5 linked regions of the Homo sapiens genome follow. The protein of the gene in region 1 purifies or fractionates together with the protein of each later gene. This does not show direct contact. Each region holds a gene or a part of one and is shown in the gene's direction. Other genes may lie near its edges.

Region 1 (6,952 bases):
GAGCAAACAGCCCTAGGCCAATTATGTGCCACAAATACAGGAGGGACTTCTAATTGGCATGTGTTTTTCCTGTGGGAGTGTCAGAGTGGTATTTATTCAGAAACTCGAATTTGTTACATCTGATTTCCTGGGAGTTGATATAAACTGCAGAATCCTTCCCTCTTCAATTGGCCCCATTGGGTTGGCTTGAATTATCTGCTTGTTGTATAATAGCATGTATATCATACTGTAGCATCTCAGACCATTTTGAGCAATGAAGAGGTATAAAATGATGACCCTAAGTTTATTGATAATACCCTGGCATACAGGTATGCTACAGGTAGGAAAACATTTTCTTGACATAGAGCTATTTTCCCAGTGTTCTAAGTGACTGTATTCCTACCAAGGACCAGAATGATCATAGATGTTTTGGTACCTACTCTTATTGCTGCTTCAGGTTACTCCAAAATAGGAAACAGGCTACATTTTGGTGTCCTGTTAAGTGTGTTCACTTAGATTACTCTCAGACACTGAAGCCTTATAAGGGACTGGTTGTGTCTATAAAGTGGATTACTCAAAGGAAGACTCTGCCCTTGGCACGCCCTGTCCCAGCTCAAAAGCACAAGTTCTTATGACTCTGGATTTTACCAGTAGTCTAGACCTCAGTGGACCTTGGGCAGAAGCCTTCCTGCCTGAGAGGCTGGAAGGAATTCTTTTGTTTTGTTTTAAAGGAAGTTACTTGTTTAAAACACAAATAAAGGTGTGGTAGACATCATTTTGGATTATAGCCTTAAAAAAAAAATCTGATTAACTTGATTCATTAGAGTGTGATTTTCTTTCTTTTGTATAAAAAATCTATTGTGATTAAGTTTACATGAATACATTCTCACGGGCTTGGCCTTGGACTTTATTCCTAATATGGTCAGTCATCCGAGGGATTATAATGAGGGAATGTCATGATCTAGTGAGCATGTACCTTTAACACAGCTCAGTCAGCTCCACTAAGGAAAAATGTCCAAGGGCTCATATTGATATCAGACTAAGGAAAAATGCCCAAGGGCTCATATCCATATCAGACTTTTTTTTTTTTTTTTTTTTTTTTTGAGATAGGGTTTCACTTTGTCACTCAGGCTGGTGTGCAGTGGCATGATCTTGGCTTACTGCAGCTTCAACCTCTCAGGCACAAGTGATCCTCCTGCTCCAGCCTCCTGAATAGCTGGAACCACAGGCATACACCACCACGCCCAGCTAATTTTTCTATTTTTTTGTAGAGACAGGGTTTCCCTATGTTGCCCAGGCTGGTCTCGAACTCCTGGTTTCAAGCGATCTGCCCACCTCAGCCTCCAGAAGTGCTGGGGTTGCAGGCGTGAGCCACTGTGTCCAACCCATATCAGGACCTTTTAATGTGGATATTCAGTTTGGCATATGCCATTAGGTAATCAGTCCAGCCAGTTCTGGAAAATCTTGTGACTCGCGTACCCTGCTTTGATTATTTCCGAATCCAGTGGGTAGAGAAGGTAAAGGCAAGGGCTCACTGGATATTTTTAAATTGTAGGGATGTCCTTTGCTCTGGGTCAATTTTAGGATCAAATATAAAAGCACCTATAGCTCAGAGTATCTTCTAACATAAAACTTCTGAGATACCAGAAATTTTCCAAAACATGGTATAAACAGTATGAAACACTGGGTAGATAAAAGCTTTCTCTAAATCTTAAAGTGCTCAAATATCATGACCTGATTTTTTAGTTTTAGAAATCAGATATTTTTCTATTCCATATCTTAAACTTTCATGTTAAATTCTAGTTCTGACAATGTAGGGTTCTATTTTTTTCAGGTGATTGTTGGGAGCGTATAGAAGCATATATAAATATGGAATATGTGTTTCTTTTTTCCCCTTCTGAAAGAAAGTCAAGCCTCTAATCAAATAGATTGATGCTTCAGAAACTTAACAGAATATTATCTGCAATTTGGCATAAATGCATTTTTCTTGGGGAAGTTTCCACGCTCAAAATTATTAGTCATTGCAAAACAGAAAAGTTTGACAACTGGAAATGCAGACCCTTTTGCTTGATTTTGTAAAGACAGGAAAATAAACAGATTATGCTTAGAATATCTGTTTTCAAAATTTAGTCATCATAAAGCTTATCTGAAAAGAAAAAATAGCAAAAATAGCAGCTTTTTCTTTCTTTTTCTTTTTTTTTTTAAGACAGGGTCTCACTCTGTCACCCATGCAGTGCTGTGATCTTGGCTCACTGCAGGCTCCATCTCCTGGGCTCGAGCAATCCTCCCACCTCAGTCTCCTGAGTAGCTGGGACTACAGGCACACACCACCGTACCTGGCTAATTTTTTTGTATTGGTAGAGACAGGCTTTCGCTGGTCTCGAACTCCTGAGCTCAAACAGTCCACCCACCTCAGCTCCCAAAGTGCTGGGATTACAGGTGTGCGCTCCCACACCCAGCCAGCAGCTTATTCTTAATTATGACATGACAAATTAAGTTATTGCTCTACACAGGTACATATGGTAGTGTGTAGTAGCAAATACAGGCATTTGTTTGAGCTGCAATGAGTAGAAAATCTATGTAACTGGAAAACAAATGAGTATTACTAAAAGTTTTGTGTGTATGTGTTTTAATTTCTTTACTTTAATAAGTTAATGATCTCCCTTGGAATCTTAACACAATTTGTTGAACAAATGTTTTTTGGGTTGGTGTAAGTCATGTCTTTCTTTGCTAAGTCACAATTCTAAGTGAATAAGGGGCACAACAGTGTGAACTTCGGTCATCGTATTTCTTTCTGATAGCTTCTCAAATAGACTTCTGTCACTTTCGATGAAATACTTCAGGTATCCATATACTTTTAACAACTTAGAGTATATCCTTCTAGAATCATATAACCAACTTTACAGCCAAAACTTAGAATTAAGAGCCATTGTCATTTGGTGAGCAGTGAATAAGATAAAGTATTCTTGGAAATGGTGAAATCTGGTATACCTTTTCGAAAGCATCTTTATGGGGATGGAACATTTTCTTTTAACTACGTGAGCTCTTCTGATAGGGATTTTATACTCCAAAACTAGTCTATAAGTTCCAAAAAAAAAAAAAAAGTTAAAGCTTGGTTTGGATTAGTTTCTTGCTTTATGTTTATGCTCTAGATAAATTTAGAAGAAAATTCTCTCTACCTCTACTGTTTTTTCTCCAAATTTTATTGCAAAACAATAAAGATTAAAAAATGGGGGGTGGGCTGGGTGCCGTGGCTTATGCCCGTAATTCTAGCACTCTGGGCAGCCTAGGTGGACGAATTGCTTGAGCTCAGGAGTTCATGACCAGCCTCAGCAACATGGTGAAACCCGGTCTTTACCAAAAATAGAAAAAAAAAAATTAGCTGGGTGTGGTGGCAGGTGCCTGTGGTCCAGGAGGCAGAGGTAGGAGGATCACTTGAGCCCCGGAGACGGAGGTTGCAGTGAGCTGAGATCATGCCACTGCACTTCAGCCTGGGTGACAGGTGAGACTCTGTCTCTAAATAAATAAATAAATAAATAAGAGTGGTGGGACCACAGGGTGATTTTTGTGTTTCTTTCTAAGCCTGGTATTTACTAGATTTCTGAAGTTATCTAGAGAAACACACAATGAGTCAACTTGAAAATGCTAATGTCAGCCACTTGGTATAATTCTGTAGTATAGTTCATCGAATTTACCAAATCCAGGGTTAGAAATAAATCTCAATGCTGGGCGCGGTGGCTCATGCCTGTAATCCCAACACTTTGGGGGGCCAAGGTGGGCGGATCACCTGAGGTCGGGAGCTCGAGACCAGCCTGACCAACATGGAGAAACCCTGTCTCTACTAAAAATACAAAAATTAGCTGGGCATGGTGGTGCATGCCTGTAATCCCAGCTACTCGGGAGGCTGAGGCAGGAGAATTGCTTGAACCCGGGAGACGGAGGTTGCAGTGAGCCGAGATTGCACCATTGTGCTCCAGCCTGGGTAACAAGAGCGAAACTCTGTCTCAAAAAATAAAATAAAATAAATAAATAAGAAATAAGTCTCAATAAAGACACATTGAACTTAACTGCTAGGATTTAAAGACGTGCTGTAATTAAATTAAGAGCATGTTCCCTATATATGTACTTAACTGCATTAGTAATAACAGCCTACCAAATGGCCGTAGCCTATTTATTAGTAAACAACTTGTCAGACTACTGACTTGGTCCATAAGACCCTAACCAGTTTGGAGATGAGACGGGGCCTCACCATACTACTGTGATTAATATTCCTGTTTAATTAGTGAAGTTACACACCTAACCAAGATATAGGAGATATTTCTTCTATTCCTGAAACATTTTTATTTTAAATATTTTTGATTAATGGAGTGACATAATGTAGAGTTGTTGAGTTTCCAGTTTCCTTAGAATCTGGACATCTTTAATGTTTTGTTGTAACATCTTGACTACTTGATAAAATGATTGTAAATCTGGGAAGGGAAATAGACTTTTTTTTTTTTTTTTTTTTGTAGAGACAGGGTCTGTCTATGTTGCTCAGGCTGGTCTTGAACTCCTAGTCTAAGCAATCCTCTTGCCTCAGCCTCCCAAAGTGCTAGGTTTACAGGCACGAGCCACCATACCTGGCCTGAAATAGACAGTTATATTTCTGACTTTGGGAACAAGAGCTAAAGTTATAGTTTGCCTTTTCCCTTATCCCCCACTGGTTTATCAGCAAGGTAATTATTGAGTTTATCAAAATCATCCCTCTAGGGAGACTTAACTTCCTTCTTTTCTGAAACTGTTAACAGAGAGCTGAGAGCTCTGATGCCAGAGCAATGACTGAGACTCCAAAGCATGGTAGGATTGGAGGATGGAGTTCTGGGAAGTCCTAACAGTGGGAGTAACAAGATAGTAAATCCAAGATCCAGCTAAGTAAAAGCTGAAACCAGTTGGGATTAAAGAAGAAGGAATGAATTTGTAACTGGGTAGTACGAAATTTCTTAAAATCAGTATTTTTTAAGTGCGTGAATATTGGAATCATTAGAATGCATAAAAACAGTAATAGTTTTTATAGCAACTCTGTTGCTATAAAATTCATTGAATTTCTCATATCAGTTGCCCTGAAAAATCCTAAATATCACTGTTGTTCACCTAGTAGCAACTCTTTGAATTGTAGCCAGATGTCTAGAAGAAGGTTGTTCTTTAGTAGTAATTCCTGCTAAAGTATGTGGAACACCCCCTCCTTACAAGTACAGAGCTGGGCAGGATGGCTTGCACCTGTAGTCCCAGCTACTAGGGATGCATAGGCAGGAGGATCACTTGAGGCTAGGAATTAGAGACCAGCCTGCTCAACATAGTGTGACTTCATCTCCAAAAACATAATTAAAAAACAATTAGCCAGGTGTGGTGGTGCACACCTGTAGGCCCAGCTACTTAGGAGGCTGAGGCAGGAGGATTGCTTGAGACCAGGAGTTGGAGGCTGCAGTGAGCTATGATTGCGTCACTGTACTCCAGTCTGGATGACAGAGTGAGACCCCGTCTCTCTCTCTCTCTCTCTTTAAAAAAATGTTTTTTAAGAGACAGGGTCTTGCTATGTTGGTCAGGTTGGTCTTGAACTCTTGGCCTCAAGCGGTCCTCCTGCCTCTGCCTCCCAAAGTGCTAGGATTATAGACGTTAGTCGCCACGCCTGGCTGAGACAAGTATTACTACAGCATCTACATGCATTTGAAAGTGTGCTAGTATTCCATGCATAAAAAATGATGAGTTCATGTCCTTTGTAGGGACATGGATGAAGCTGGAAACCATCATTCTCAGCAAACTGTTGCAAGGACAAAAAACCAAACACCGCATTTCTCACTCATAGGTGGGAATTGAACAATGAGAACACGTGGACACAGGAAGGGGAACATCACACACCGGGGCCTGTTGTGGGGTGGGGGGAGGGGGAAAGGATAGTATTAGGAGATATACCTAATGCTAAATGATGAGTTAATGGGTGCAGCACACCAACATGCAACATGGCACATGTATACATATGTAACAAACCTGCACTTTGTGCACATATACCCTAAAACTTAAAGTATAATAATAAAAAAAAAGTGTGCTAAACATTGATTTTACAGATGAGTCACTCACCCCAAGCTGTAGCCTGAGGCCTACAAACTGGAAGTACCTGATTTAGCAGGCGAGAATTCTACCCCTGAACCACCAATGCTACCAGCAGGAAGTACCTGATTTGGAAATCCAACTCTTTGGGAGTTAAAAGAACTTTTATTTTGTTCATTGCTAGTCTTCGGAGCCTAGAAAAGTGCCTGGCACATCCTGGTGGTTCACAACAAATATTTGTTGAAAAAAATCAATGAATTGACTCTGGCTTTTGCAGGTACTCCTTGTTGTTTTTCGCCCAGCTAATTTCTTTTTTTTTTTTTTTTTTTTTTTTGAGACGGAGTCTTGCTCTGTGGCCCAGGCTGGAGTGCAGTGGTGTGATCTCAGTTCACTGCAACCTCCGCCTCCCAGGTTCACGCCATTCTCCTGCCTCAGCCTCCCGAGTAGCTGGGACTACAGGCACCTGCCACCACGCCCAGCTAATTTTTTTGTATTTTTAGTAGACACGGTTTTTCACTGTGTTAGCCAGGATGGTCTCGATCTCCTGACCTCATAATCCGCCCACCTCGGCCTCCCAAAGTGCTATGATTACAGGTGTGAGCCACCACCCCCCGGCCTCACCCAGCTAATTTCTAAAAAGCACCAGACCTTCAAGCTTTTGTTCGCAGCAGAATTCTCTTACCATTTTCTGAAGGATGTTTTCTTCCTTGTTATTTTTTTCCTTCCCATTAATTATGTAGATTTATGTTATTAGGTAATACTGTTTTGAGGATCTATACATATTTGTCATTTACTGCTATTAAAGTGTTCAATATAGTTTCTAAACTTTGAATTAGTTATTTTAGCTCTATCTGCTATATCTTTCTTGAAGCAATGTATTCATTTGGTG
Region 2 (6,952 bases), on another chromosome or scaffold:
GATTTGTCTAGGGCAGATTATCTCTGGATAATCTTAGAATTCACCAAGAAGCAGAGACAGAAGTGACTCCCTGTGTTGTGGTGCTTGCTAATGGAGTGCGGCCTTTTTCATGTTTTCCTTCCCTAGGACCAGTGTACCATGAGTACTGTGAGTGTCCGGAAGATCCTCAGGCCTGGCAGAAGACTCTTTCTTGTCCAACCAAGGAACCACAGATTGCAAAAGATTTTGCTTCCTTTCCCAGCATCAATCTCCAGCAAATGCTAAAAGAAGTCCCCAAAAGGTTTGGGGATGAGAGAGGTGCCATTGTTCATTACACGATTCTCAATAACCATGTTTACCGGAGATCTTTAGGGAAATACACAGACTTCAAGATGTTCTCTGATGAGATTTTGTTATCATTGACAAGAAAGGTAGGAGAATGAATGAATTGATAATACAGTTTAATTATTTAGGTATAACATTTAAATGTTTAGAATTATAATGACAAAGGATGAAACAGATTTCAGGCTGAGAAATGGGCATCTAAGATATTTGCAACCTGAGTGTTCATCATGTTCTCCATCTTTGTGGATCTTACTTTCCTGTAAGATTTAAAATTAAGTGGCTTGAGGCCAGGCATGGTGGCTCATACCTGCAATCACAGCACTTTGGGAGGCTGAGGCGGGTGGATCATCTGAGGTCAGCAGTTCAAGGCCAGCCTGGCCAACATGGCAAAACCCCATCTCTACTAAAAATACAAAAATTAGCTGGGCGTGGTGGTGGGCGCCTGTAATCACAGCTACTCAGGAGGCTGAGGTAGGAGAATCCCTTGAACCCAGGAGGTGGAGGCTGCAGTGGGCCAAGATTGCGCCACTGCACTCCAACCTGGGTGACAGAGTGAGACTCCATCTCAAATAAATAAATAAATAAATAAATAAATAAATAAATAAAATAGAATAAAGTGGCTGAGCCCCCATCCCAGGTAGGTATGCCATACAGGACACTCCCAAGCTTTCTTTGAGCTTCCAGAGATTTATAACAAGGTTACTTCTTATTCTTTTTTTCAAATAGTCTATATTTACAATATCCAAACAGAACAGTCTCATTTATTTATTTATTTTTAAATAGGGATGGGGTCTTGCTGTGTTGAGCAGGCTGGTCTCAAATTCTTGGGCTCAAGCCATCCTCCTGCCTCAGCCTTGATCCTAGCTGGGACTATAGGCATGCACAACCATGTCAAGAGGCCGCTTTAAGTTCTCTGTTCCGCTGAATACTACTCCTGCTTAGATTTCACCTTCTGCAGCTGTTTTCTTCTCTTCACCTCAAAATGACTTGAACTTAGAACACATTTTCCTTGTTTTACCCTAAGCATACCTAGAAGATAGCGTGCATGGGACATTTTGTCAAAGCTTGGGCTACCAGAAACAGGTTGTTTTTTTTTTCACCAGTGCATACTAAAAAACAAACAAACAAAAACCCTGATATTTAAAAATAGACATCTCTGCACTAATCAGACTCTCAGTCATACTTGCCTCTGGGAATTTCTCAGGGCTGTCCTTGACCTTAAGTTCTTAGCCTCTCACTAATGTGGTTAGGCCCTCTGTTTTTCAGGCTCCCCACATCCCCCAATAGCGCCCCCTTATCTCACTATTCAGCCTCTCTTTCCACATTTGCAGAACTCTAAATTCCTCTTAAGCAGAGCAACTTAAACCACCTTTTGTTCTTGTTTCTGATCATACAGGGTGAAGGATGGAGGTGGGCAATATTTATCTTTCTTACTTAGAGAGACCATAAAGGGAGTTTTTTTGTTTGTTTGTTTGTTTGTTTGCTTTGAGATGGAGTCTCACTCTGCCACCCTGGCTGGAGTGCAGTGGCACGATCTCGGCTCACTGCAACCTCTGTCTCCTGGGTTCAAGCGATTCTCCTGCCTCAGCCTTCTGAGTAGCTGGGATTACAGATGCACGCCATGCCTGGCTAATTTTTGTTTTTTTAGTAGAGAAGGGGTTTCACCATGTTGGTCAGGGTGGTCTCAAACTCCTGACCTCGTAATCTGCCCGCCTTGGCCTCCCAAAGTGCTCAGCATGAGCCACTGCGCCTGGCCAAGGGAGTTTTATAAACCAAAAAAAACACAGTTTTCCTGATATGTTATACAATTCCCCAAGTATGCTGACTGTGTGGCTGCAGTCAGTTCTTACTTTAAATAGCAGTCCCCAACCCCTCCACCACCAGCCCACAATGTGAGGATACAAGCATGTGATGGGCATCTGCTCCTAAAGGTAGTGCTCTCTTCCCGGGCTACAACTAGTCAACTGTGCCCTGTATTCTTGCCTCTTTAATCCATGTTGCTGGCTTCATAGCAGTAGATTTCAACCAGGGATGATTTTGCCCCTCAGAGGACATTTGCCAATGTCTAGAGACATTTTTGGTTGTCACAACTCAGGGGTTGCTATTATCATCTAGTGGGTAAGCATCCTACAGTGCAAAGGATAGCACCCCCCAACCCCATCGCAAAGAATTATCCAGCCCCAAATGTCAATAATATGAGCTTGAGAAACCCTACTCCACAGTGAGCACTTCCAATGTGGAGTTTATTAAAGAGTTTATAAATAATAGCAGGGAGGCTGGGCACGGTGGCTCACACCTGTCATCCTAGCACTCTGGGAGGCTGAGGCAGATGAATCATTTGAGGTCAGGAGTTTGAGACCAGCCTGGCCAACAAGATGAAATCCCATCTCTACTAAAAATACAAAAATTAGCCGGGTGTGGTGGTGCGTGCCTGTAGTCTCAGCTACTTGGGAGGCTGAGGCACAAGAATCACTTGAACCTGAGAGGCAGAGGTTGTGGTGAGCCAAGATCACGCCACTGCACTCCAGCCTGGGTGGCAGAGTGAAACACTGTCTCAAAATAATAATAATAATAATAATGACAGGGAAGCAAGAGGGTGAATATTCACATCTCTTGCCCTTTCCTTTTGTTCTTTGCCCAGTGGCTGGGGAAGAAATAAATCTAAGATAAGTGAGACTCAGTCCTAGTCTCTGAGTAGCCCACTGTAGTGGGATTTGTTTTTGTTGTTTGGAAGTGGGGGTGGGATGTGAATACAAACAAATAATTATATCCCAATATGATGATAGGCCTCAAGAGAATTAAGTACCTAGGGTTTAAGTGCCTGAGGAGGGTGAGTCATAGAAGAGGTGGTGTTAGATCTGGGCTTGGAGGATGAGAAAGGAGACTGCCAAGTTAAATAAGTAAAACATTCCAAGTGAATGGAATTACATGTTGAGGTGGATGGCATTTTCAGAGAGTAGCCTAAGGTTTCCTGGTAGGTGGGCAGATGAAAGATGAGGCTTATAGCCAAGCTGGGACAAGATTGTGAGGCCTTGAATGCCAGCCAGAGAGTTGAGATCTTGTGCCATAGGCTTAAGGTTCTGTTAAGCTTGGTAGTGACATTAACAAAGTTATTTTAGAAATTTTAGTTTTAGAATTAATTTTAGTTTTGGAAATCTGAGCAGCCTTGTGGAGAGCAGATTACAGTATGGAGAGCCCAGAATCAGAACACCTAGTAAGGAAGTTATTGCAGCAATCTAGGCAAGAAATGATGAGAGTCTAAACTGAGACATTGACCGTGGAGATGGAAATGGACTGGCAGGTTCCAGAGGCAAGGGCACATGAGGCAAAGATGGGGACAGTGAAGGAAAACAAGGGTTTGGTTCTAACTTTGTAGATTCTCTTGCTTAGGCAGCTGGCAGAGGGTTATCGAAGCTATTCATTCTTACCTCTCTACACAATTTTCACTTCTCTAACACTACATTTTATTTTATTTTATTTCTTTTTCTATTTTTTTGGAGACAGAGTCTTGCTCTGTCGCCCAGGCTGGAGTGCAGTGGCGCGATCTTGGCTCACTGCAACCTCTGCCTCCCAGGTTCAAGCGATTCTCCTGCCTCAGCCTCCTGAGTAGCTGGGATTACAAGTGCCTGCCACCAGCCCAGCTAATTTTTGTAAGTTTAGTAGAGACAGGGTTTCACCATGTTGGCCAGACTGGTCTTGAACTCCTGACGATCCACTCGCCTCAACCTCCCAAAGTGCTGGGATTACAGGTGTGAGCCACCACGCCCAGCCTCAAACACTGAATTTTACATGCATCTCTGGACAGAGGTAGCTGACTCCTGGTTAAGTGAATTTGTCATGCAGGATCCTCACAGGTGACAAATTCACAGCCATCCTGTCAATGACAGGCATTCTTCTCTCTTCTCTGTTTTTGAATGGTTAGCCCTGTCAAAAATATGTAAGAAAACCAAAGAACTGTTGTACTTAGTACCAAAGACTGAGATCTTCCCAGCACTGATGTTTGTTTATATGTTTATTTAGGTCCTTCTCCCAGATTTAGAATTTTATGTTAATCTTGGAGATTGGCCCTTGGAGCATCGAAAAGTCAATGGAACCCCTAGCCCCATACCTATCATTTCATGGTGTGGCTCTCTGGATTCAAGAGATGTTGTCCTTCCAACGTATGACATCACCCACTCCATGCTTGAAGCCATGCGGGGTGTTACAAATGATCTCCTCTCTATTCAGGGAAATACAGGTATTCAGGGAAATGCAAGGCTAATTAATGAAGAAAAAGCTTAGAGACAGAGTGGGTTATACATATATGTTTGCATTCAGTAGCATATTAGAAAAAGTCTTGTACTGAAAATTCTGACCAACCTAGGGATTAAAGATTTGTGGATGTTCCTCAGTTATATAGTTTTTTCTGGTCACCCTTTGTAAGAACAAAGGGCTAGCTCACGTTTTATTGTGAAACACAGAAAATGGAAGAAGCTAATGCCTTGGTGAGTGGACCCAGTCACTGAATCTCTTTTTTGCTTTGAACACGGTCCGACATTATTTCAGGTATTTCCTAGTATTATACAACAGAATACACGAATACTTGCGTGAGCTTTCACTAGCAGACAAATGGATGAAATTAGAGCATTCTTTTACATAATACAGCAAATAAAAAGACTGTTTTTTTTAAACTCTAAACTTGAAAGTGCTTCTGGCAAATTGAGACTCAATCCCATATTTTCGTTGAAATAACATCTACTTTAGAAGATGAGTTGATAAAAGAGCTTTAGCATCTTAAATGACAATGGTAGATTAAAGAGGATTATGCTTGCCATATTAAAATGTCAAATTCATAATCCTAATTTTTTTATGGCTTCAAACTTGTAGGGCCTTCCTGGATCAATAAAACAGAGAGAGCTTTCTTCAGAGGTAGAGACAGCCGAGAGGAGAGGCTCCAGTTGGTACAGCTGTCCAAAGAAAATCCTCAGCTACTAGATGCAGGAATTACAGGATATTTCTTTTTCCAAGAGAAAGAAAAGGAGCTTGGAAAAGCCAAGTTGATGGGTTTCTTTGATTTCTTTAAGGTATGCATTTGAGTCTTCTTCTATGGATATGAAGCGATAAAATTGTATTAAAAGTCTACCAAAATAGGTGGGCTTCAGCAAATTTCACCTGGCTTGTGAACTGACACACATGTTCACACTTTCTTATTAGATATCAGGAATTACAAAACCCATTGTGGTTTCCTTCTTTCATTGTTAAGTTTACCAAATAGCTCAGAACTGTACTTAATTCTCAAAATATAGTACAAGGATTAACCTGGGATTTTGGTATATTTATGTCTCGTTTTTCTTTCTTTTTTTTTTTTGTATTTGCTTTCATAAACTGGGAATATAAATACCTTTTACATAAAGTGATCTCAAATGTCTTTTATAAATAGAAAAAGCATAAATTCCATATATGTAAAGTGGGAGTTGGGATTAGGGTTCAAGGCCTGCTTCTAATCCTGCCTCTGCCACCAACTATGGGACCTTCCTGTCTTGGTGCCTTGGTCTTTAAACCCGTGTGATGCCTGCCTACTCCTTCAGAGCATTATCACGAGGCCCAGAGGAGAGATGTGAACAATGTGACAAAACCTGATGGGCTCAAAAACTCCCTTGTACCAATTATTTAAGAAAAATTTATTTACCAAATCTGGGAGTGTGTCCTCTTCATCCCAGAGTGATACAATGAGTAGAACAGGGGATTTGGACTCAGAGAATGAGGTTTATACATTTCTCTGAATACCAGTTTTCTCATTTGTAAAAACAAAAAGAAGGGGTTAATAATACCTGCTTCAGATTATTCTAATTGAATGAGGTTTAATGCCTATGAAAACTACATTTGAAATGGAAAACAAAGTATATTAACCCAACAAATATGCAGACAGCTTACCTACTATGTTGCCAGCATTGCCCAAGTCCTTAAATGTCTCCAGGTTTCTATCTCCTCAGCTCTAAAACTGTAAAATAGAGACAATGCCTGCCTGTTTCATAGACTGCGTATAAGGAACAAATGAAATAATGAATAAATGAAAGTGTTCATTGTTATCAGTATTGAGCTTTAAGAATTTTGAAAATAGTTTTCCTGGCTGGGCGTAGTGGTTCACGCCTGTAATCCCAGCACTTTGGGAGGCTGAGGCGGGCGAATCACCTGAGGTCAGGAGTTTGAGGCCAGCCTGGCCAACATGGGGAAACCCTGTCTCTACTAAAAATAGGAAAAAGTTAGCTGGCTGCAGTGGTGGGTGCCTGTAATCCCAGCTACTCAGGAGGCTGAGGCACCAGAATTGTATGAACCCAGGAGGTGGAGGTTGCAGTGAGCCAAGATCACGCCGCTACACTCCAGCCTGGGTGACAGAGCAATACACTGTCTCAAAAAAATAATAATAATAATTAATTAAAACTTAAAAAGAAAATAGTTTTCCTACCTTGTTACAGAAATCTGGATTCCATTATTACAGAGACATGATTGAAATAGGTCTTCACTCCTATTTCCAAAAATTTAGCACCTTACCTTTAAACAATGTATTTCTTAAAATTAATCTGAGAAATGCTGCTTGTGATTTTTATACAAAGAGAAGATGTAAGTTATAAAATAAAACTTTTAAACA
Region 3 (6,952 bases), on another chromosome or scaffold:
CAGTGTCCCTTGGAGCCCATAGATTGTTCCGAGTCTGACTGGAGGATGACCTTAGCAAGGTTCTTTGTGAGATAGGATGTGCCAACACGGTCATAGGTCTTTAGGTTTTGGATCTTCCTCTTTGTTCAGATGAGGAAGCCAAAATCCTAGTATATTGAGGGACTTACGGAAAACTAAAATACTCAGTGCTTGGATACTTTGTTCCTTATTTAACTAAGTCTTTATAGAACCAGAACATATTGGTTTTAGCACTAAGCCTCCAACATTTTTTTTTTAAATGAGCTCTGGGAGAACACCTGTGATTTGTCTCCTCCAACCCACTAGGCTAGCTTTGTAGTCTTACCTGTGGCTACAGGCTCTTTACCCTTGAGATGTCAGTGTTTTTCTTATTAGCTGTGTTTTAACCCTTCGACTGAAAGCAGAGCTAGAAGCAGCAGCTATGGCCTCTTACAGCAGAACTTTAAAATGGGTGGGTGTTTTGATCTTTTTTTTTCTCTGCCAATATTTTTCTAGGAATGCTTTAATTCTCCATATGGAGCGAAATATTTTCCTGAATATGCAGAGAAAATTCCTGGTGAATCCACACAGAAGCTTTCTGAAGTAGCAAAGGAATGCAGCATATATCTCATTGGAGGTAACTTCCTACCCACAAGGTATAATGACCTAAACATTAGAAACATCTGAATGAGTCAGGTGTGGTGGCGTGCGCCTGTATTCCCTACTTGGGAAGCTTCAGCTTGGGAAGCTGAAGCAGAGAGTTTCTTTTTCTTATTTATTTATTTTTTTTGAGGTGAGGTCTTGCTTTGTCACCCGTGCTAGAGTACAGTGGTGTGATCATGGCCCACTGCAGCCTCACCCTACGAGGCTCAAGTGATTCTCCCACCTCCTGAGTAGCTAGGACTGCAGGTGTGCGCCACCATGCCTGGCTGATTTTTGTATTTTTTTGTAAAGACAGAGTTTCACCTTGTTGCCCAGGCTGGTTTTGAACTCCTAGGCTCAAGCAGTCTGCCCACCTTGGCCTTCCAAAGTGCTAGGATTACAGGTGTGAGCCATCATGCCAGGACTGTTTTTTACTATACTAATAGAGGATTGAGAAAAAAAATTTTTTTCCATAGAGGCCACATACATAAAGGTAGCTTTATTTTTGTGGTTTTGGAATAAATGTTTAAAGGTTTTATTTGCTTAAATAAAAAATAAACACAGAAAAATTCTATAAATATAGCAAATACAATTTTTTCTGTATGATGATATATTAAGAATTAGAAATGAAGGCAAAGCAAGAAGCCTGGAGATGAAACTGCATTCAGTGATGGAGAGGCTTCTGACTTTACGTTCTCATCTTTTGGGACACAGTTTTGTTGCAGAACCTGGTGAATTCAAGTTAAGCAATGGGAAATTTCTCATTTTGCCCTAATGTTACAGATTAAGTGTTACTCAAGATCATGGCTGAATTTCAGGAACAGTTTGGTTATTTTTTAAACCTGTCTTTGGCATCTAACCTAATCATATCCCATCTACACTCTGGAGTTTATCTCTGAAAGATCATATTCAAGAAGGAAAAAAAAAACCATGATTAAGTAACCCATAGAAGGGAATACTTATTCTGTATTATAGAATGAGGTGTTGCCTTATTCTAAAAACAAAATGAATAAATAAACCGTAAAAGATAGGTTCTTTATTTTTGGACCCAAGTTATCAGGCTTTTATCCCTTTCTCACAAAAGAATTGCTCTATTCTTTTTCTTATGGTATGTTTCTTCTCTCAATGAAAGGCTCTATCCCTGAAGAGGATGCTGGGAAATTATATAACACCTGTGCTGTGTTTGGGCCTGATGGAACTTTACTAGCAAAGTATAGAAAGGTAAGTAGGAAGTGTGGCATAAGAATTTGTTATCTCTAAGCCAGCAACAATGTGTGGAAAAAAAATTTGCTATGAAGTTCCCTAGTCCCTCTCATTATATCACACATGTATTAGGGTTTTGACTGATTGGCACAGGTGGTTATTCTTGGCCATTTGCATTTTTATATAAGTTTTAGACTCAGCCTGTCAATTTCTGCAAAGGAACAAGCTATAGTAATTTTTTTTTTGACAGAATCTCGCTCTGTCACCCAGGCTGGAGTATAGTGGCACAATCTTGGCTCACTGCTAGCTCTGCCTCCTGGGTTCACACCATTCTCCTGCCTCAGCCTCCCGAGTAGCTGGGACTACAGGTGCCCACCACCATGCCCAGCTAATTTTTTGTATTTTTAGTAGAGACTTGGTTTCACCGTGTTAGCCAGGATGGTCTCAATCTCCTGACCTCATGATCCACCCGCCTCAGCCTCCTAAAGTGCTGGGATTACAGGCATGAGCCACCGTGCCCAGCCAACCTATAGTAATTTTTATTAGTATTTCATTGAATATATAGAGAACACTGTGGGAAGAGTTGCCATCTTTTTAGTATTAAATGCGTATACATGACCAGGTGCAGTGGCCCATGCCTGTAATCCCAGCACTTTGGGAGGTCTGAGTAAGTGGATCACCTGAGGTCAGGAGTTCAAGACCAGCCTGGCCAACATGGTGAAACCCCATCTCTACTAAAAATACAAAATTGGCTGGGTGTAGTGGTGCACACCTATATAGTCCCAGCTACTCAGGAAGCTGAGACAGGAGAATTGCTTGAACCCAGGAGGTGGACGCTGCAGTGAGCCAAGATTGCGCCACTGCACTCCAACCTGGGCAAGACAGAGCAAGACTCCATCTCAAAAAAAAAAATCATATACATTTAGTATCATTAAGTCTTCTTGATGAGTTGACCCTTTTATCATTATGAAATATCTCTTTTTTTTCTTGTAATACCTCTTGTCTTGAATTCTGCTTTATCTCTGCTATCACTATAGCCACTCCAGCCTTCTTATGCCTAATGTTTGCTGGTACGTGGTTTTTCCAGTTCTTTGTTCTCAAGCTATATGTGTTTTTATATTTTAAGTGGATCTCTTTTGTCAACAGCATATAATTGTATCTTAATTTTTTCTTTATTCTGACAATCTGTGTCTTTTAATTGAAGTGGTTAGTCCATTTATATTTAATGCACTTATTGATATGATTGAATTTAGGGATAGAGACATTTTACTTTTTTTTCCCTTTGTTCATCTTTTCTGTATTATTTTGGATTAATTGAATATTTTTTAGAGTTCTGTTTTAATTTATCTATTGGCTTTTTAGTTATACATCTTAGCTTTTTTTTTTTTTCCAGTTGTTGCCCTGGGAATTATCATATGCATCCTTAACTTTTCACAGGCTACTTAAGAGTTCATATTATATCATTTCATGTGAAATTTAAGAACCTTATAATGATATAGGTCCATTTTTCTACCCCACTGCCCCTGCCCTCATTCTTTATGCTATAGTTGTCATTTGTATTCCATGTATATATGTTATAAATCCCACAAAACAGGAATACTTGATTTAAATAGTCATATGTATTTTAAGGAAATTAAGAAGAAAAAAATCTTTATGTTTACCCAAATATTTATCATTTCTGGTGTTTTTCTTTCCTTCCTGAAGATCCTCCTTCTATCTGGTATATCCTTCAGACCAAAGGATCTCATTTAGAATTTTTGTTCTGAGGATCTGTTAGCTAGGAATTCTGTTAGTTTTTCTTTATGAATATATCTTTACATTGTTTTCATTCTTGAAAGATATTTTTGCTGGAATAGAATTTTGGATTGATAGTTTTCCTTTTTTTCCACTAGTAGTTGTTATCTAGCCTTTTTTTTTTTCTTCCCTGATGAGAAGTGAGTAGTAATTTGTATTGTTCCCTCGGATATAATTTGTTGTTTTTTCTCTCCTTCTTTCAAGTGTTTTCATAATCTTTAGTTCTTAGTATTTTGACTCTGATATGCCTAGATGTGGTTTCCTTTGTCTTTGCCTTCCTTGGTACTTCTTGAAACTGTAAATTTAAATCTTTCACTGTGTTTGGGAAGTTTTTTGACACTATTTTGTTAAATATTTTTCTGTTCCTTTTTCTTATGGAGCTCCAGTATATGTATATTATATTTTTAAATATTTTTCCAAGGTCACCAGGCTCTGTTTTTCTGTTTTTGTCTTTCCAATACTTTTTCCTTCTCTTCTACAGATTAGATAATTTCTGTTGATCTTTCAGACTTATTCACTGTTTCTTCTGTCTTCTTCAATTTCCCGTAAGCCAACCCAGTGAAATTTTAAAAAATTGAGATATTAAAATTTTCAGTTCTGAAATACCCCTTTGCTTCTTTTTTATAGTTTTTATTACTCTATGATATTTTCTATTTGTTCATTAAAAGCATATTTTTCTTTACAGTGTTGAGCTTAGTTAGTTTCTATAGCTGCTTTAAAGTCTGATAATTATCACATCTGTGTGCCACAGAATGAGACTATTAGGCCTTTAAAAGGCCCCTGATGTAAATAAACTCATATCCAAGCAAACAACAAGAAAAAAATTATAACATCTGGGTCATGGCAGGATCTGTGTTCATTTGATTGCCTTTTCTTTGCAGTTTGGATCACACTTCTGTTTCTTTGAGTATCTACTAATTTAAGATTGTACAGTGGATTATATATTGTAGAGATTCAAGATGCTATTACAGTCTTCCAAAAAGTGTTGAATATTTTGTTTTAACTGATGGTTAACTTGGCCGCACCCAAACACCAAACTCTTATCTTCTTTGAAACGTGGGCAGCAACTTTAGCTGCTCTGTTCTATCTGGTTGTTCTGCCCCACTTCTATTTAACTCAGTGATCAGCCAGAGATTTAGAAAGATTTTATATGCAGAATTTAGGGCTCTCCCTCTTTGCTTTCTCCATTTCAGGATTTCCCCCCTTGGTTTCCAGCTCTGGTTCTTCAAGCCAGTGTGATTATGGGTCATTTTCACCACTACTTATCACAGCAACTGGGACCTTGCTTCAGGGTAGCAGCTGTAAATAGCACCAGGAAGTTCACCCAGGGCTGTTCCCTGCTTCCACATGTCTGTGTTCTTCTCTTCAGATTTTGTCTGCTTTGTTTTGGTCATTCTTCAGTGCTTTAAGTAGTTGTGCCTTTTATTTTGTCCAGAGTTCATAGTTAACCACAAGAAAACTGGTCTGATAGGAGCTACTGTGTACCTGCTGGAAGAACAGCCAGCATTGGACTATTAACCCAACTCTTTGAAGTATATCTTTTTAGTATTAAGTTTTCCAGTCCATGAATGTGGTATATATCCTGACATTTATTACGCTTTCTTTACTTTCTCTCAATTTCTTTTTATAGTTTTTTGGGTATAATTTTGTTTAACATTTGTGAGATTTATTCCTCATTGGTGTTTTTAGATGCTCTTTCATTTTCTGTTTTTGTTTTTGTTTTTTTGAGATGGAGTCTTGCTCTGTCGCTTAGGCTGGAGTGCAGTGGTGTGATCTTGGCTCACTGCAACCTCCACCTCCCTGGTTCAAGCTGTTCTCTTCTTTCAGCTTCCCAAGTGGCTGGGATTATAGGCATGCACCACCATGTCTGGCAAATTTTTGTATTTTTAGTAGAGACGGGGTTTCACCATGTTGGCCAGGCTGGTCTTGAACTCCTGACCTCAGGTGATTTTTAAATGCCCACCTACTTTCCACCTCTCCTGTCAATTTGTCAGTTTGATTCTGATAAGTATTTTTTTTTTCTTTTTTTTTTTGAGAGAGAGAGTCTTGCTCTGTCACCCAGGCTGGAGTGCAATGGCGTGATCTCGGCTCACTGCAACCTCCACCTCCCAGGTTTGAGCAATTCTCCTGCCTCAGCCTCCTGGGTAGCTGGGACTACAGGCACGCACAACCACCCCCGGCTAATTTTTTTTTCTATTTTTAGTAGAGACAAGGTTTCACTACTTTGGCCAGGCTGGTCTCGAACCCCTGACCTCAGGTGATCCGCCCACCTCGGCCTCCCAAAGTGCTGGGATTACAGGCATGAGCCACCGTGTCCGGCCTGATTCTGAGAAGTCTTTATTTAGCATTTATATTTTTAAAAAGCAACATATTAGTTACCTCCCATGAGAAACCTAGAGGTTGATTTGCAGACTGCTAGAAAATAGGGGTTATAAAAGGTACAGTATCATTTTTCCAGTTCCCTGTGGTAGAATTCATTTTGATAAGGTGTCAGCCAGCTTGTGGGGTGGATTATAAGCAGTTTGGGGGTGCTGTTTGTATAGTTAATCTTAGAGCACCTTCCGTATCTGCCCGGGGAAAGATATTGTCATTACTGCCATGGACCCTGCTGGAAAAGAGGTAACCAAATCCATTATTTGTGATGCAGATCCATCTGTTTGACATTGATGTTCCTGGAAAAATTACATTTCAAGAATCTAAAACATTGAGTCCGGGTGATAGTTTCTCCACATTTGATACTCGTATGTACCAGATAAGTTTGCCTCTTTAGCAATCTCAGTAGAAGACAATCAGGTATTTATTTCTTTTTTGTCTCTCTCCGATTTCTTCACATAACCTAACTGAAAGACCATAAGTGAGAAAGGCAGAGAATCATCACAGATCTGGAAAGTTCGGGCTTATTTGAGAACTAAGGATTTGACACGATTTTGCCCTTTGATTTGATTGTAGCTTCCTGTTACGGCTTCCAGAGTATACCTATTAGGCTACAGTTGAGTACCTCCCATCTAGATAATAAGCATTCAATTAGAATGAATTTCTCATCTTTACTCCGCTGATGTAAATGATGTCTTTATGAGATGAAGTCCAAGTAGGAATGAGCTTGTAAATTATCTCTGTCCTCAGGTCCTGTGTTAATTTATCCCTGTCAGTGTTTTGTGATCATTATGTCATGGAGGATTTCCCCTGCCACACCATGCTGTAGGGAGTTAACTTTTCATTTGTGCATTTTCTGTTTGGAAACAGCTTACTGCAGAGTGGGTCTGGGCATCTGCTACGACATGCGGTTTGCAGAGCTTGCACAAATCTACGCACAGAG
Region 4 (6,640 bases), on another chromosome or scaffold:
CAGAACTATGGTTAGTCCCTTTTTTAAAAAATAGGAAGCCTGACACACAGATTTCGGCCTCGTTTAGTGTCAGTGAATTAAAAAATTGTCAGAACAAAATTATGAACATCTTCATGCTCATTTGAAAATAAAGATCTCTCTCTGTAATGCTGATGAAGATCACTATAATGCTGAAAAGCATTCATTATGACTGGGCACCAGCCAAAGCACAGCTTATTTTATGCCATTACCGCTATTGGAATAGTACAAAATGTGCCTACAGTGGGCTGTTGGACCTGCTCATTAAAGCACTGTCAATCTGCTCCTCTCTCACCACTACAAAGAGTAGATCAGTAGCAAGCCACTACTGCTTGAAATATTTTTTTCACATAGTGTGAATCTCTTTCCATGAAATCTTTAGTCCTTGAAATTTAAGGAATATAGGGGCCAGGAGTGGTGGCTCACGCCTGTAATACCAGCACTTTGGGAGGCCAAGGAGGGTGGATCACGAGGTCAGGAGATCAAGACCATCCTGGCTACACGGTGAAACCCTGTCCCTACTAAAAATATAAAAAATTAGCCGGGCGTGGTGGTGGGCACCTGTAGTCCCAGCTACTCAGGAAGCTGAGGCAGGAGAATGGTGTGAACCCGGGAGGCGGAGCTTGCAGTGAGCAGGAGATTGCGCCACTGCACTCCAGCCTGGGCGACAGAGCGAGACTCCGTCTCAAAAAAAAGAAGAAAAATTTAAGAAATATAAAAAGTGGAAGATAAAGCATCTTTCTGATGTTTGCATTTTTCCTCATAAAGTAGATGGTGACGTTTTCTTCTGCTGCCTCTCTTAGATATACCCTCAATGTCCTGGAAGATCTTGGAGATGGTCAGAAAGCCAATGACGACATCATTGTGAACTGGGTGAACAGAACGTTGAGTGAAGCTGGAAAATCAACTTCCATTCAGAGTTTTAAGGTCAGAATCCATATTTGACTATTAAATATTATGTTTGCTGGATAACATCTATCATTTGGGAAGGCAACTTTTGGCTTCTTTGTGAGTGAGAATTAGTGTTGGGCTAATGGCACAATTCTTTACGAATTCACTGGGCTTTGTTTTTGGCACTTGATATAAGTAAGCACATGTTAATTTGTATGTATCAAAATTCTCAGATTTGTTCTCCTTTCACACTAGGACAAGACGATCAGCTCCAGTTTGGCAGTTGTGGATTTAATTGATGCCATCCAGCCAGGCTGTATAAACTATGACCTTGTGAAGAGTGGCAATCTAACAGAAGATGACAAGCACAATAATGCCAAGTAAGGGAGACTGCTAATAGTATGAAAAGAACGCAGCTTTGTAGCTGGACAGATCTGAATTCTAATTCAGGTTCTGCCATTTAAGAGTGGTGTCACCTTGGGAGAAACCTCTTGGAGCCTCAGATTCCTCATCAATAAACTGGGGGCAATAATACTTACCTTAGATTTTATAAAGATTAAATTTTTAAAAATTATAAGAGCCTAGCCTTGTGCTTGGCCTACTAGGTGCTTAGTCGGTTGTTGCTTCAGTGGATTACAGAAATAATGTAGCATGTATTTTAATGCAAATCAGGTAAAACTTTACAAGGAAAATAAGAGCTTAGGGTGTTCATCTGTCTGTCTCATTCTTTTTTTAAAAAACGCATTATCCACTTATGTCTCTTTTACTATACATAGATCATTCTTACTACATTTATTGAATTTATCTTCATCAGTTCCCATATTAACAGAATGCTTGCTAGCCCTCCACAGAAGACTATGCCTTGAAAGTTTCTTGCATTTCAACAATATTCAGAAGGTCTTTTCCACCAGCCTATTTTCTTCTTCACCAAAGGCCTAGAGTGTGACCTGGCTTCATGGGTGACCCATGAAAACCTTACTAGTTAGACATTGAAAATCCATCCACAGTCCTGCATTACCGAACAGCTAAGAAGCATTCCTGCAAAACTTTGGAGTTAGGCACATTATTTCTTTTTTCCTTGAAAAATATTTCTAGCAGATATGACAAAGGTCTAATATCCACAATATATCAAGAACTCTTGAAATCTCTTTTTCTAGAAACTCGATGATTTAATTATCTTTAAAGATTCTGGTTCCAACACACCTAGAAATACTTCACGGATTAGTTGAGATGTGTTCCTGAAAATTTCCCTACCTGGACATCTCAGTTCTTCTGTCCCTTCGTCTACCTTTTCTAGTTTTTGGTCCAGCCACTCTGTCCACGTACCACGTAGACTGTCTCCCCTCTCATGAATACTTGGAAGTATTCATTGCATCTGCCTAACAACTTGGGTTTTGCATCTAGCATGATTTTCCACCTCATATCTCTAAGATGACTTGAGTGTGTGTTATTATGTGTGCAATGAGAATATTAACATGGATTGTATAGACAGCCTAGGTAATTATATATATAAAGTTGGTGCTTCAAGCTTAATTCTCACCTCACATTGGAGAAAAAGAGTGAATAAATATTATTAGCCCCAAATAATAGAGCTTAAAAACCTACTGTAACTTCAAAGTGAAATCAAAACCCAAATCAAAAGAAAACAAAAAGCAAAACTGTTCTAATTGGAACTATCAATATGGAATTTTTGCATCCCAGCATAATAATTATATATGAGGAAATAGATGTCTTACGTGGTGTCCTTAACTGACAAGAATTTCATCCTGATTTTGTTTCCCCCTAAAATAGGTATGCAGTGTCAATGGCTAGAAGAATCGGAGCCAGAGTGTATGCTCTCCCTGAAGACCTTGTGGAAGTAAAGCCCAAGATGGTCATGACTGTGTTTGCATGTTTGATGGGCAGGGGAATGAAGAGAGTGTAAAATAACCAATCTGAATAAAACAGCCATGCTCCCAGGTGCATGATTCGCAGGTCAGCTATTTCCAGGTGAAGTGCTTATGGCTTAAGGAACTCTTGGCCATTCAAAGGACTTTTCATTTTGATTAACAGGACTAGCTTATCATGAGAGCCCTCAGGGGAAAGGGTTTAAGAAAAACAACTCCTCTTTCCCATAGTCAGAGTTGAATTTGTCAGGCACGCCTGAAATGTGCTCATAGCCAAAACATTTTACTCTCTCCTCCTAGAATGCTGCCCTTGACATTTCCCATTGCTGTATGTTATTTCTTGCTCTGTTATCTTTTGCCCTCTTAGAATGTCCCTCTCTTGGGACTTGCTTAGATGATGGGATATGAATATTATTAGACAGTAATTTTGCTTTCCATCCAGTATGCTAGTTCTTATTCGAGAACTATGGTCAGAGCGTATTTGGATATGAGTATCCTTTGCTTATCTTTGTAGTACTGAAAATTTGCCGAAGTAACTGGCTGTGCAGAATGTAATAGAAGCTTTTCTTATTCTTTTATTCTTAAGATCAGTATCTTTTTACAGTATTCTTTCTACATGATCCTTTTTTGTACATTTAAGAATATTTTGATTATATTAAACAAGACTGCTGATTTTGCTACTTTTTTTAAGGGGTCTTCAAGTAAGTAAAACATACATCGTAGCTAGAAGAAAAATGTACCTTAAATTTGCATCTTCCCTCTCATACCCAAGCTGTAAACAATTGAAATATTTTGTCTTAAATCACTTGGTTCAATACATGCTTATTTGTTTTAAAACCTGTATCATCAAACTCTCTCTCTAAATTTAAAATGCTGTTGAATATGATACTTTTGAGGAGAGAGTGTGCTCAGAACTTAGACGGGATTTGGTAGGCCAAGTATGCTAAGTGTACAATATATTTTTTAATTTTACACCTGAAACAAAGAAATGTGGTCACTAAAAATAAAAGTATATATGTAGGAATTAATGTACTCTTGCTTTGTCAAGCTGTTTGCTATAGTTTCCAAGGTATTATGTTACTCTAACTCTGAAAAGTGATGTAATCTGGTAGCAATGTAGTAGTTCAAATAAAGGCATTTACATAATAATTAGTCTGTTCTTCATGCTTTTGTCTCTTAGGAAGTATGCCAATGTTTGTCAGGATTTTTTTCTTTTTGTTTTTCTGATGTATTCTGTAAAATGGTGTTTGTTAAATTTGAGTTTTGGGAGCTGAATTAGAGGTACTGAATTAAGGACAGTACAAATGAAGTAAAAAGGTTTTCTCCAATTTACCAAAATTTCTTTATCCAGTTCCTGCTTTTTTCTTTCTTTTCCACCTCCCTCAGTCTTTTCAATGTTCTATGATATACATATCCTGAAACAGTGGGGATCTGAACAGTCACAGAGGAGAAATGGTTCATAGTAGATCTTCTCAATCTCATCCATATATGACATTTTTGGCTGGATAACTCTGTTGGGGTGGGGAGAAGGGGCTACCCTGTGCATTGTAGGAGGTTTAGCAGTATTACCGGCCTCTACCCACTAGATGTCAGCACATGCCCGGTGGTGTTGACCAAAATTGTCTCCAGACATAACCAAATGTCTCCTGGGTGGCAAAATCATCCCTTGTGGACAATCAGTGCCCATTTAAGCCTTTGTGTGAATGAGTAATATAAGGTGTAGTCTACTGAGGATTTGGTTACATAGAGATACTATATAATACTTTGCATTTATAATCTGAGAGATGGAAAGGCCTTTTTAAATATCACCTGAATTCCAAAGACATAAAATTAAAAAAGGATATATTTGACAACTCTACTTTTGCAAATATATATGTATAATAAAAAAGATCAAAATATAGATAACTAAAAAAGTGAGTTCAGTCTCAGATTATAGATTCTTTTAATATAAAAATAGGATTTATGAGTGAAAAAAAGACAAATCTGCAAACATACTAGGGTAACTGATGAAGTAAGGACAATTACATCTTAAGACCTGTCTTATGCCTTGAATCTGCCATACTCATTCACGTTCATCTTCGTCGAAGTACAAAGGTTCTTCTCTGTAAGCCCTAACGCCTTGAAGTGCCTCTTTAACAAGATAGGAAAGATATATTACATGTGGCCCTTTCTTCAAAAAAGGAGCTGATTTCTTGGGTGGTTCACTATACAGGGCCCACAGCCTGTAGGAGTGTACCATGGGATAGTTAAGTGTTCATATAAAGCAGTGGACCTGACACACAATTTTTTTCCTCCAAAAACTAATTTCAACAAATAAGAATGTGGACCAAAATTAGCAACACATTCAGAATTCTGCTGGGCGTGGTAGCTCATAACTGTAATCCCAGCAATTTGGAAGGCTGAGGCAGGTGGACTGCCTGAGCTCAGGAGCTCAAGATCAGCCTGGGCAACACGGTGAATCCCCATCTCTACCAACATGGTGAATCCCCCATCTTTTCCCCACACACCTGTAACTTCAGCACTTTGGGAGGCTGAAGTAGGAGGATTTCTTGAGGCCAGGAGTTTGAGACCAGCCTGGACAACACGGGGAGACTCCGTCTGTATAATAAAGTTAGCTAAGCATGAGGCTGGGTGCGGTGGCTCAAGCTTGTAATCCCAACACTTTGGGAGACCAAGGTGGGTGGATCACCTGAGGTGAGGAGTTTGAGACCAGCCTGGGCAACATAGTGAAACCCCATCTCTACAAAAATACAAAAATTAGCCAGGCATGGTGGTGGACACCATAATGTGTCCCACCAGCTACTCGGGAGGCTTAGGCAGGAGAATCACTTGAACACTGCGGGCAGAAGTTGATGTGAGCCGAGATTGCGCCACTGCATTCCAGCCTGGGTGAAAGAGCTAAACTCCATCTCGAAAAAAAAAAAAATTAGCTGAGCATGGTGGTGCATACCTGTGGTCTCAGCTACTTGGGAAGCTTAGGCAGGAGAATCACTTAGTTCAGTTGATCAAGGCTGCAGTGAGTTGTGATAGAACCATTGCATCCTAAACTGGGCTGCAAGACTCCATCTCTTAAAGAAAATAAAGATGATATTCCCCCTCTATCCTAATATGCTGAGAGATTGATTTTTTAAATTTTTGTCATGAATGGGTGGGTAGATTTTATCAAATGCTTTTTCTGCATCAATTTATATCATCATAAAATTTTCTTCTTTACCCTATTGATACGGTGGATTACATTGATTAGTTTCCAAAGATTAAACAAACCTTGCATGCCTGAATAAATCCCACTTGGTCAGTGTATAATTCTTATTCATTGTTGAATTTTATTTGCTAATATTTTATTGAGGATTTTTGCATCTAAGCTCAGAATGACGTTAATTTTTATTTAAATGTTTGGTGCAAGTCTCCAGTAAAAGTGTCCAAACCTGGAGATATTTCTTTAATGGTTATGGGGCTATTCAGATTATCTATTTAATCTTGATTGCGTTTTGGGTGGCTTTTGAATTTTGAGGAATTTGTTCACTTCTTCCATGTTGCTGAATTTGTGACCATAAAGTTTTCGTAGTATTTCCTTAATTATCTTTTTAATAGCTGCAGGATATGTAATGATATCTTCAGTTTGATTCCTCACAGTGGTGATTTATGTCTTCTCTCTTTTTAACCTTTGTCAGTCTTGCTAGAAGTTTATCAATTTCATTACTTTTTTTAAGAACTAGCTTTTTGTTTCTTTGTTTTTGTTTTTCTATTTTATTGATGTATGGTTTTATCTTTATGATTTCCATCTTTCTGCTTTCTTTGAATGTGTTCTGCTCTTTTTTTGTTGTTGTTGTTGTAGCATCTGTCCA
Region 5 (4,342 bases), on another chromosome or scaffold:
ACCTATGTGAGTCTATGTGAGGTAGACTCACATAGTTTCCTAAAAGATAGCAAAGCAGTATTATGTAGTGGCTGAAAGTGTGAGTTCCGGAGCCTGACAACTGATTCAAAGCATGGCTTAGTACTTCCTAACTCTGACCTTGGGCAAGTTACTTAACCTCTCTGTGTCCCATATGTGATTAGGGTGAGGTTGATAATAGCAGCCATAGAGTTAAGAGGATTAAGTGCTATAATGCAAGTAGAGCTCTTACAACAGTTTCTGGTAAATCACTCAATAAATTCAGACATACTATTATTTTAAGAAATCTCAAAGAGTTTTCTTGTACCTTAAAATTCTCCTAGTGTGAACCATTGGTTTTGGTATATTGTGCTTCCATGTAGTTTAATATCAAGATGTTTTTAGATTTCCCTTTTAATTTATTTGTTGACCCATTGGTTGTTCAGGAGCATGCTGTTTACCTGAAAATAATGGAGATATTAAGGTATTTGAATATTTATCTTCTAGTACATTGAAAAACTTTTTGAGAGTAACCAATAATAAATGATGGAATGCTACTGCTTTTTTTTTTTGAAGCTGCCAGTTATTGTTTACTTACACTATGCCAAATATAAAGGCATTAATCTCATAAAAGTTTCACAACAATCCTGTGAGGGAGACGATATCCCCATTTTACAAATCAGGAAATTAAGACTTAATAAGGTTAAAAGACTTGCCCAAAGTCACAGAACCAGTAAGTGGTAGAGCTTGAATTTGAATACAGACCTGACTCTAAAGCTCTTTTCTTTCTTTAGATTTTAGTGTTCATTGCTTACTTGAATGAGTATCTATAAGAAAACTTTAACATGTAAAACTTCTGTGAAATTATCTTGTCCCATATCAGGGTCATGTCAAACTAATGTCCTCCTCAGCATCTTTGGAAAACTTCAGAGGAGAAATGAGCTTTGCCCCTCCTGTTCATTTCATATACCACTGTTAGACCTGTCCTTCCCTTTCAGCATGCTTTGTCCATATTTAGAAGCTGTTGAAGCCATTACTTGTCTGGTCAGTTTTTAGTGCTGGAATGGACCTAGCCTTTTAGGCCTTCTGAGATTTAGTTTGATCTCGTCTTTCCCACCTAATGGCTCTGTTCTACTACATAGATTTGATCTGAAACAGTTCTCTGTTTCTAAAATAACTTTCTTTTCATGATAGTCACAGTAAAGTACATTTATTATGGAAAAATCAATAAGTATAACGAGTGAAAGTTATTTCTTGGTGGTAAGATTATGGGATTATTTGAACTTTCTGTTTCATTGTATTTTATTTATTTATTTATTTTTGTGATGGAGTCTCACTCTGCTGCCCAGGCTGGAGTGCAGTAGTACGATCTTGGCTCACTGCAACCTCCCCTTCCCAGTTCAAGTGATTCTCCTGCCTCAGACTCCCAAGTAGCTGGGATTACAGGCGCACGCCACCATGCCTGGCTAATTTTTTTATCTTTAGTAGAGACAGGGTTTCACCATGTTGACCAGGCTGATCTCCAACTCCTGATCTCAGGTATCCACCTGCCTCAGCCTCCCAAAGTACCGGGATTACGGGTGTGAGCCACCCTGCCTGGCCTCATTTTGTCTTTTGGGGGTATTTTTGTGTGCAGATATATATGTATATAAATATTTTTCCCTCTTTTCCCCAGTTAGTATTTGAGCAGATGAACTTTGGACCCGAATACCTGTATTCAAGTCTCTAATACCACTTCTTGGCTATTTTCATTTTATCAAATGGCCTCTTATCCTCGTTTTTCTCATTTATTAAGTAGAGATGTAACTACTTGATATAATTCAAAAACTCAATAATGGCATTCTTTTGTTTTTTAGACTCTAGTGTCTGTACTCGTTGTACCATGCTGGGATTCATTTGAACAATTGCATGGCTTTTTTAGTGTATTATTAAATTTGCAGTTTACTTAGAATTTACTGGGACCTCATACAAATGGGAAAAAAACATAACTGTGTTACTCATTTGCTGTGTGCCTTTGGATTGACCCTATTTTTTGTATTCATTTTCTCCCCATGTCCTGAGTTCCACTTTGAATAAAAAGTAATTTTTTTCCTGCCTGTAAAATAGGCTACCAATAGGCTGCAGTTGTCTATAGTAGCTGCTTCACTGAGGAGAGCTCAGCATGAGAGAAATAGTATGAATTGCTTGCCACAAGTTATGGGCTAGCCTTACTTCATTCTGTACTTGGACCTGTTTAGGCTTCTAAGAGATCTTACCTCCAACAATAAACTGCTTTGAGACATGAAAAGGTGGAAGCTTTACTTGGTTATAACTTTACTTTTAATACCTAGAACAGTGAGTCTTCAAACTTGTATTTGCATGCCCAATTTATAAAAAGTTTCCTGAGCATTTACCCCTAATATATGCATTTTAAATTATATATGATTTATGGTAATAATAATATATATGTTACAAAATACATACAAAAATATAGATTAAACAAGGTGAGGTAAAAAATTTAAAAGTTCTAATCTTTCTTGCAAACCAGTGGATCTTTTGTGCCTTACTCTGGTAAACACTGTCTTAGAAGAATATATAGAACATTAAAATCTTAATGCTATAGTTATATGACAGAGTATGATGAGAGCTACAGATAAACAACACATCATGAATCTTCTTGTGGCAGTGTTTATAACCATTATGTGAAATGCTGCCTCATTCTTATAACTAGCATAAGAACAGATAGGACTTTCTCGATTTTGAGGGGTAATTATTAGATGGTATTTTCTGTTAAGGACTCTTCCAGCTATAAAATTCTTAAATGTAGAAAGCGAAGTGAGGGTTTATGGTGAGAGGAAGCATTGGTATCATGTTTTAGTGTAGTCCAAGAATATGGACACATCCAGAAAATGCAGATCAAGTTTAGCCTAATGAGAAAATATATTTTGGAGTCCATATGGTAAATTAAATTATGTGATTTTTGAGTTATTGTACAAATATAATTCTTAGAATGTTAGAGTCAGGAGACTATAAGAGACCAACTGCTTCAAGTTTCATTTAACACATGGGAAACTAAGGCCAGAGAAATTTCAAGACTTGCCCAAGATTAGACCTCTTGTTAAGTAATGAAAGTGTTTTAAAAACAGGTGGGTCAAATTCTGTTTTTAAAATTTCCATTATGATGAAAATTTCAGTATTACAGGCTTCCAAATCCCAGCAGATGGGCCACTTGTTTAAAGGAGAGTTTGATATAATAAAGCATCTAAAAACAAGAGTTTGGATAATTCCTTAGGGTTGTTATGATGTGATTTGACTTATAATTGGAAATACCGTTTTATTCATTGTACTGATTTTCATTTCTCTTTTTCTTCTAGAATGTCTTGATTGTGGAAGTAAGTTCACATTTACTTTTAATATAACATTTATGACTTTTCTAACTTAGTATGCACCATCCTAAAGGTAAGCCAGGGAGAGAAATTCCTCTGCATCAGTTTTAATGGTGGGCTTGTGTTCTAAAGGAGTGAGATTGGTTTTTTGTAAAGACTACTTAGTAATTTGTTTTTACCAATAATGGAATGGTATACTTCCTACCTCTCTTTTTTTAGTTTGAAGTATTTTCTTTCTAAACATAACTCTCTCTCTCTATTTATCTATATATAATATATACATATATATCTTATATTTTATGTATATATATATATATCTTGCTTAGATTTTGTCTTATGTAATATTTGGTACATAAAAAATAATATTTATAATTTATAGACTATTTTCCATGTGTTATTATGTGCTAAAGTATTTTGTATCTTAGCACCGAGAGGCTAAGCAGTTTCCTAGGGTTACCAGCTAGTAAACTAAGGGAAACCTTTACTTCCTTTAGCTCAGTGGTTCTCAAAATGTGGTTCCCTAGACCAAAAGTATTAATATCAGACAAGAACCTACCGAATCAAAATATCTGTGATGAGGCCCAGCAAGCTATGCTTTAACAAGTTTCCGAGTGATTCTGATGCATGCTAAGGTTTAGGATCCCTTGTTTTTACTCATAAGTCACTTTCTCATTAAGGCCTTCCCTGGCCATCCTATATAAAATCTCATGTTTTCACACCGTCAACTTCGTATTCCTCCTCAATACTTTTATTTTCCTGATCACTTATCACTAACAGCCTCTCTCTCTCTCTCTCTCTCTCTCTATGTATATATATATATATATCACTTATCACTGTCTAACAGCCTCTCTTTATATATATATAATCTATAGATTATATATATATGCAGCATTGTGCAATCATTATCACGCTCAATTTTAAAACATTTTCATTGCCCCACAAAGAAACCCAATCCCCTTAGCCATCACTCCCCATTTCCC

What was found.
Region 2: the proteins of PPA1 (region 1) and POGLUT3 fractionate together in Homo sapiens (co-fractionation; one large-scale study listed by BioGRID). This does not show direct contact.
Region 3: the proteins of PPA1 (region 1) and NIT2 fractionate together in Homo sapiens (co-fractionation; one large-scale study listed by BioGRID). This does not show direct contact.
Region 4: the proteins of PPA1 (region 1) and PLS3 purify together in Homo sapiens (affinity purification with mass spectrometry, with the first as the bait; one large-scale study listed by BioGRID). This does not show direct contact.
Region 5: the proteins of PPA1 (region 1) and HPRT1 purify together in Homo sapiens (affinity purification with mass spectrometry, with the first as the bait; one large-scale study listed by BioGRID). This does not show direct contact.

What each region holds. Positions count from the first base shown.
Region 1 is NC_000010.11:70,221,781-70,228,732, reverse strand, and holds part of PPA1 (inorganic pyrophosphatase), read left to right. Parts: intron 1-6,952.
Region 2 is NC_000011.10:108,479,615-108,486,566, reverse strand, and holds part of POGLUT3 (protein O-glucosyltransferase 3 isoform 1 precursor), read left to right. Parts: intron 1-126; coding exon 127-410; intron 411-4,344; coding exon 4,345-4,561; intron 4,562-5,190; coding exon 5,191-5,387; exon of another isoform or gene 5,388-5,407; intron 5,408-6,237; exon of another isoform or gene 6,238-6,304; intron 6,305-6,952. UniProt on the Homo sapiens protein: Protein glucosyltransferase that catalyzes the transfer of glucose from UDP-glucose to a serine residue within the consensus sequence peptide C-X-N-T-X-G-S-F-X-C. Can also catalyze the transfer of xylose from UDP-xylose but less efficiently.
Region 3 is NC_000003.12:100,339,302-100,346,253, forward strand, and holds part of NIT2 (omega-amidase NIT2), read left to right. Parts: intron 1-513; coding exon 514-634; intron 635-1,771; coding exon 1,772-1,860; intron 1,861-6,283; coding exon 6,284-6,377; intron 6,378-6,879; coding exon 6,880-6,952. UniProt on the Homo sapiens protein: Has omega-amidase activity. The role of omega-amidase is to remove potentially toxic intermediates by converting 2-oxoglutaramate and 2-oxosuccinamate to biologically useful 2-oxoglutarate and oxaloacetate, respectively.
Region 4 is NC_000023.11:115,646,729-115,653,368, forward strand, and holds the end of PLS3 (plastin-3), read left to right. Parts: intron 1-821; coding exon 822-945; intron 946-1,164; coding exon 1,165-1,289; intron 1,290-2,700; coding exon 2,701-2,833; 3' UTR 2,834-4,133; downstream 4,134-6,640. UniProt on the Homo sapiens protein: Actin-bundling protein.
Region 5 is NC_000023.11:134,486,838-134,491,179, forward strand, and holds part of HPRT1 (hypoxanthine-guanine phosphoribosyltransferase), read left to right. Parts: intron 1-3,350; coding exon 3,351-3,368; intron 3,369-4,342. UniProt on the Homo sapiens protein: Converts guanine to guanosine monophosphate, and hypoxanthine to inosine monophosphate. Transfers the 5-phosphoribosyl group from 5-phosphoribosylpyrophosphate onto the purine.